2 separate regions of the Homo sapiens genome follow, and region 1 is linked to region 2. Evidence: fine-mapped expression QTL. A gene starts in region 2. The other region holds a variant in brackets. All regions are shown on one strand. Distances are between the middles of the regions. Region 1 has its middle 20 kb from the start of NHIP. Region 2 holds the start of NHIP (neuronal hypoxia inducible, placenta associated).

Region 1 (2,907 bases), 20 kb before region 2:
AGATCTGTGCCTTTTTCATTTAGTTCCCTGCAGTGTGTATGGCTTATGCTGCCATTTTTGAATGGGAGATTATTATCCAGTTCCATGTCTAACTGTTTGCTGCTAGTGTAGAAAAAAAAATGGTTTCTTTTTGGTCGTTTTATATCCAGTCATCCTAAGAGTCACACTTTGCTAGTGTAATATGCTTACTCTGTGCCGTTACTAAAAGCATGAGAAGATGAAAATTCAGAAGCCAGCTGAGAAGAGACCTCTCAAGTGTGTTTGTAACTGTGATCTTCACAGATGCCAACCCTTCCCGGAAATGCTGGCCCAGGCTCTCTGAAATTCACATCCTAGACATCAAGGCATTCAATGCCTTTGGTGTGTGCACATACATGTATGTGTGTGCACATGGGTGTGTATGAATGTCACACACACCCCAGGGAATACAGTCATCACAGGCGGTAGACAGGCAATCAAGGTCCGAGCACCCCACAACTTCACAGGTGTTGAAAGTGAGGCTGGTCTGGCTCTTGCTGAAGGAAGGGCCCGGGAGCAAGTTCAGAAACCCCAAAGTCAAATGTCCACCATAGGCAAGGCATGCACAGAAACAAACAGGACACGTTCTAACAGCAAAATGCAAAATTAATGAGGGGTGTAAATAGGCAATTTAAAGAAGAGGAACTGTTGATAGAAGTTCAAACTCATTTTTATGAATAATTATGTGTCTGATTGACTTGCTGTCTTTCACATATTTGATTGGCAATGCTTAAAATAATTGTCAGGGGAAATACAAGGCAACAAGAGCTCCTGACATTGATGGTGACAATTAGATTTGCAGCCTTTCTTTGGAAATAAATGGAAAATGTCTATTAATATTAAACAGACACATTCCCTTGGACTCAGAAGCCCCAGAGGGGTGGCCATCTGGGGGATGAGTGGGGTCAGGGTGCCCCTCACCCAATTCTAAAGCCATGTTTCTCCTTCCCCCTCCAGCTGTCAGCATGGATGCCCAGCCCTTCCCACCGTCATGCCCTCCACTTTTCCTTCCTCCCTGTCTTCCCTCTACCTTTCTCCCCATCAACTCTTCCCCATTCACCAAGGTGTATCCAAATACCCCCTCCTCCATGAAGCCTTCCCTGCTCCAGCCCTCGAGGCCCCAGTCACCCCCTGCCCTGGTGTCCATGCAGCCATCCGAGGGGGTAGGTCTGCCTGCTGCCTTGATGCCTGATGCCTCGGGGGCCTCTTCCCTCAATGAAGGCTTAGGGCCCTGGACAGGGACTCTGCCTCTTCTCCATGGACCCCTTGGCAGTGCCCATCAGAGGGGTGGGCACATGGGCCTCCATGCCACACATAGGCAGTGGATTCAGCTTGATCCCTAGGCAGATGCTTCCCTGGGCTTGCATATGGGAGCCGGGGTGGGTGTGGAGCAGAGCAGTAGCCTCCATGGGAGAAGATGCCTGGGGCCTGCAGGCGGGTGGGAGCAGTTCTGAAGGAGGAGGGAAAGCAGGGCCACCTTGGAGACTTCACTGGGGTCTCTGCCCTGGACCTGAGCCAGGGAGGGTGCGTAGGAGCCCCCTGGAGAGCC[G/A]GGCATGGAGGGAAGTGAGTCCAGGCCGGAGGGTGCTGGGACCACCAGCAGCGTGTTAGCAGGGGCAGGGAGGCCGGGGACGCCCCGTAGCAAGTGAGCAGGCAGATGGAGCAGGCTGCCGGGCTCCTGGTACGCACAGCTGGGCCACCCCTGCCAGCAGAGCAGGAGAATCCTGCGTCCCCCCACAGCACTGCAGAGCAGGGAGTTTAGAAAATGCCCGGAATCTCAGTAAACTCTCCCTGCCTCCTCATCCCATGATCCTCAGCCAGCAGTTTGGAGCCGTGAGTTTGCATTTTTCAGAAGGCTCAATCCCTGCTGTGGGCATGAATTATACGGATGCTCCGGATGCCGAGGACAGCCTTTGTCTTCTTGGTGCACTGCAAAGGTGAGCGTCCCTGTGACCTTTTGCTAACAAAAGACTCTTCTCCCAAGTCCTCTCCCGGACATCAGACACCCCGGGCCGGCAGAGGACACAGACTTGCCATTGCCGGGCGGACCCACTGAGCGGTGTGACCTGCCCCAGGGGCCTCAGAGGAAGACGGCTGGTGTGTCCCTGAGACAGGAGAGACGCATTGCCACAGGCTCCCCAGAAACAAGGTCCCCAAATGCCACTGTCGGCTGCTGAGGTACAGGGAAGTGCTTGGTGGAGACCACGCTCGCCAGGCTGCCCTGCAGCCAAAAGGCAGAGGCTGAGCAGGAACGCAGCCTCCGCTGAGGGCCACGTGGTGAAATCAAGTATCTGGGCCTGGGAAAGACATTTCTGGGGAGTCTGTGTGCTGCGGTCTGGCAGCACCGAGTCCGCTGTGTGCGGGGGGCTGGTAGGACTGGCCTCCTGAAAGGAGGGGAGAGATCAGCGTGCTTGGAGGGAGACCAACTCCCAAAAGGAACAAGGTTGGAGGGGGCAAGGCAGCTTCAGAGCCTGGCTCCAGCCCTGGAGACAGAAAGACCAGTTTAAATTCCCACCCGGCCCGCACCCTCTGGGGGGCCGTGGGACTTTGGGGAGCCTCTTTGGTCCTTAGTTTTATCTTCTGTGGAACAGACGCAATAATCCGTATTTAGTTGGGGGTAATTAGTCGACGTATGTGGATAGGTGGACACGCAGTACACTTGGTGATGGTGGCCGTCTTCACCCCTCTCTCCCTGGTTTCCCTAAGAGAGGCATCTCTTTCCGCCCTTCTCCCCTGAAACTTGGGGTGTGAAGTGTAAGATGCTGGATCTCACAGACAGGAGCCCACCACCGACCCAGAGACATCGTGGCCAGTTTTGAAATCTTCAGTCTCAGAGGACACTCATGGGCTCTGCGATGCTGGGTGGGTCGTGTGCCCACCCTGAGCTCCTTC
Region 2 (2,907 bases):
TGGATCTGTGGCTTTCATTTTCCTCAGAACATGCTCTGTGATACAGGAGATTTATTTTTCATGTGGTCGTTTTAAAATTGATTTTTGGCCCAGCACGGTGGCTCACGCCTGTAATCCCAGCACTTTGGGAGACCGAGGCAGGCGGATCACCTGAGGTCAGGGGTTCAAGACCAGCCTGGTCAACACGGTGAAACTGCGTCTCTACTAAAAATATAAAAATTAGCCAGTCGTGGTGGCGGGCGCCTATAATCCCAGCTACTCGGGAGACTGAGGCAGGAGAATCGCTTGAACCCGGGAGGCGGAGGTTGCAATGAGCCGAGATCAAGCCATTGCACTCTAACCTGGACGACAGAGTGGGATTCCATCTCAATCAATCAATCAATCAATTTTTACTTTTCGGATTGTGTATAAGAAACTCTTTCTGTTCTTAGGTCGTAAAGACCGTCTCCATCGCTTCTTCCGTTCGTGCGGTGGCCTCTCCTCTCACCATGGTGGCCTGGAGGCACCCAGATTTCTCTGGCCACGCGGCGCTCCAAGTCAGGAGTCAGCGCACAAGCCACGCGCGGACACCAGAACAGCCTGGAGGAAAAGCAGCCTCGTTCTGTTACCTTCTGCTGGTTACCCAGAGCCCGGTCCCTGCAGCCTGTGGGGAGAGACACAGACCCCCACTCTGCATCCGGGCGGAGTCACCCAGCGTTTACCCGCGTGTATTTCAAACTGCCGCAAGGACTACGTTTACTTTTCTCGCCCTGCTTCCGTGTTCTGCCATTTTTGAGGTCTCCACCACGGTCCCCTGGCCCCGGCCTAGACCCGGGCCTTTCCCCAGGGGTCCTGCTCCTCCGTGGCCCTGGACCGCTTGGCCCCTGTGCTCCTCTTTCCCTGGCTCCAGGATGCAGCCAGCTTCTCTTCAAGAAACTCAACCCCGGCTTGTGTTACCCCGAGGGTGTTTCCAGGCGTGCGAGGGGTGTGAGGGGTGGGACTGCACAGCGCGTCCCAGCCTCGGTCCCGGGCCCGGCCCCGGCAGACTCTGGAGAAGCCCAGGAGCGCGTGTCCCCGCCGGCCCCGCTCAGCCTGACCTGCTTTTCCCCACAGAGGTGCCGGGGTTCGGTGCAGTCTGGCCGTGTCCTCCTCTTCTCGCGGTTTCAGATTCTTCTTGCGTGACATTTTATCACACAAGACCGTGTTCGGGGATGGGGTGTTCTGAGCACGCCCTTACCGAGCCAGGCTCACCCAGTTCCCCATCTAGAGCTCCCTGCTGGCATCTCTCACCTGGGACCCCAGCCTGCAAGACTCCGACACCCACGCCCTTAGGGTGATGTGGCCGCGCCCAGCCTGCGCTCAGCACCACGGGAGGGAGGGCGGCAGGCGGAAGCCCCGGCCATCTTGGGAAGGGCCTTTTGGGACCGTGTGTTCCGCTGAGAACCACAGACCCATGCTTCAGACGCTACAGATTTCTCTCTCAAATGCCTGGATTCAAAATATAAAAGTGTGTTTGAGCAAACAGCAAAATATTTGGGAAATTCTCCCAGCGAGGCTTCTAATGACCCCGTAGGAAAAGCCAGGCTGCTCCCTGCTGCGCCTCCAGCGAACTTCCCACCGGGCAGGACTCTGGGAAGAAGAGCAAAGGGTTCTATTTTGCGTAGAATTTAAATAAAATTGCTTCACAGACGGGAAACGTCAAGCAAGCAGCACTCTGAGCCCATGCGTGCTTTTAATGCCTGAATGACATCGCAATTCAGTCTGAGTTCCCGCCTGGGCTCAGGGCCTTCTGAACTGCCGGGGGCTGTGAAATGGTTTATAATCAGAAGAGAAGCAGTGAGAGTTTAGATCCAAGATCCAAGGAAGTGTTTTCAGACTCAGTGTTAGCACATTTGTGTCTATACCAGTCCAGGCAGGAGGCTGAGGCAGAAGAATCGCTTGAACCCAGAAGGCAGAGGTTGCAGTGAGCCGAGATCGTGCCACTGCACTCCAGCCTGGGCAACAGAGCGAGACTCCATCTCAAAAAAAAAAAAAAAAAAAAAAAAACCACCATCAGATCTCGTGAGAAAGTACTGTCAGAATAGCCTGGGGGAAAACCACCCCCATGATTTAGTTACCTCCCACTGGCTCCCTCCCATGACACATGGGGATTATGGGAGCTACAATTCAAGATGAGATTTGGGTGAGGACACGGCCAAACCATATCAGGCTTCCACCCTCATAAACAGATTAATGTCATTATCGAGAGAGTGGGTTTGTTACCTCAAGAGTGGGGTTTCTAAAGTGAGCCTGGCCTCTCCTGCTCGGACTCAGGCCCTGGCTCCTGCCCTCCATCCTTCTCCCATGGGATGACCTTTGCCAGATGCCAGCACCATTGTCCTGGACTTTGTAGTCTCCAGAACTGCGAATGAAATAAATCTCATTTCTTTATAAATTACCCAGCCGGTGGCATTTCATTACAGCAGCAGAAAACAGAATAAGACAGTGGTCCTCTCTGTTATTTCTTGGTGTCTGTTTTTATGAATTTAAGGACATAATTATAGATTTTCTATTCATTAGCTTCTTTAGGTTTATTCTGTTATTCTCTGATGTTTTAAGTCAAGCTTTATTTTAAAGTTTTTCTTACTTCCTACATATGTTAAAGGTGACACATTTTCATGTAAATGAGGGATTTCTGCTAACCGTAGCTTACGGGAACAGAGCCACACCTCTTCATTTTCATACTGCCTGTGTTCGCTTTCTGACCAATCCAGCAGAGAAGAGGAGATGCAACAGAGACTATCCCACAAAGCCAAATATATTTTTATTTTTGTTTGTAAAAAATATTAGTAATAATATTTTTAAATGGGAAATGATCATCATCTGCACTTGTGAAATGCCATGTGGTATTTGGATGTATGTGCAAAACATGGAGTGATTAATTAAAGC

The links. PIP is the estimated chance that this variant, and not a neighbour inherited with it, causes the effect.
Region 1: its variant is the best candidate, but not a certain one, in a credible set for the expression of NHIP in testis (GTEx, PIP 0.61).

What each region holds. Positions count from the first base shown.
Region 1 is chr22:49,030,796-49,033,702 of GRCh38, forward strand. No RefSeq gene overlaps it. Among named protein-coding and RNA genes, the nearest start is that of NHIP, 20 kb to the right of the region's middle. The variant G/A (reference allele first, on the strand shown) is at 1,568.
Region 2 is chr22:49,051,095-49,054,001 of GRCh38, forward strand. It overlaps NHIP (neuronal hypoxia inducible, placenta associated), which reads right to left and starts at 1,291. Exons shown (of 4, transcript NR_183584.1): 1 at 1-1,291. RefSeq lists an enhancer at 1,258-1,337.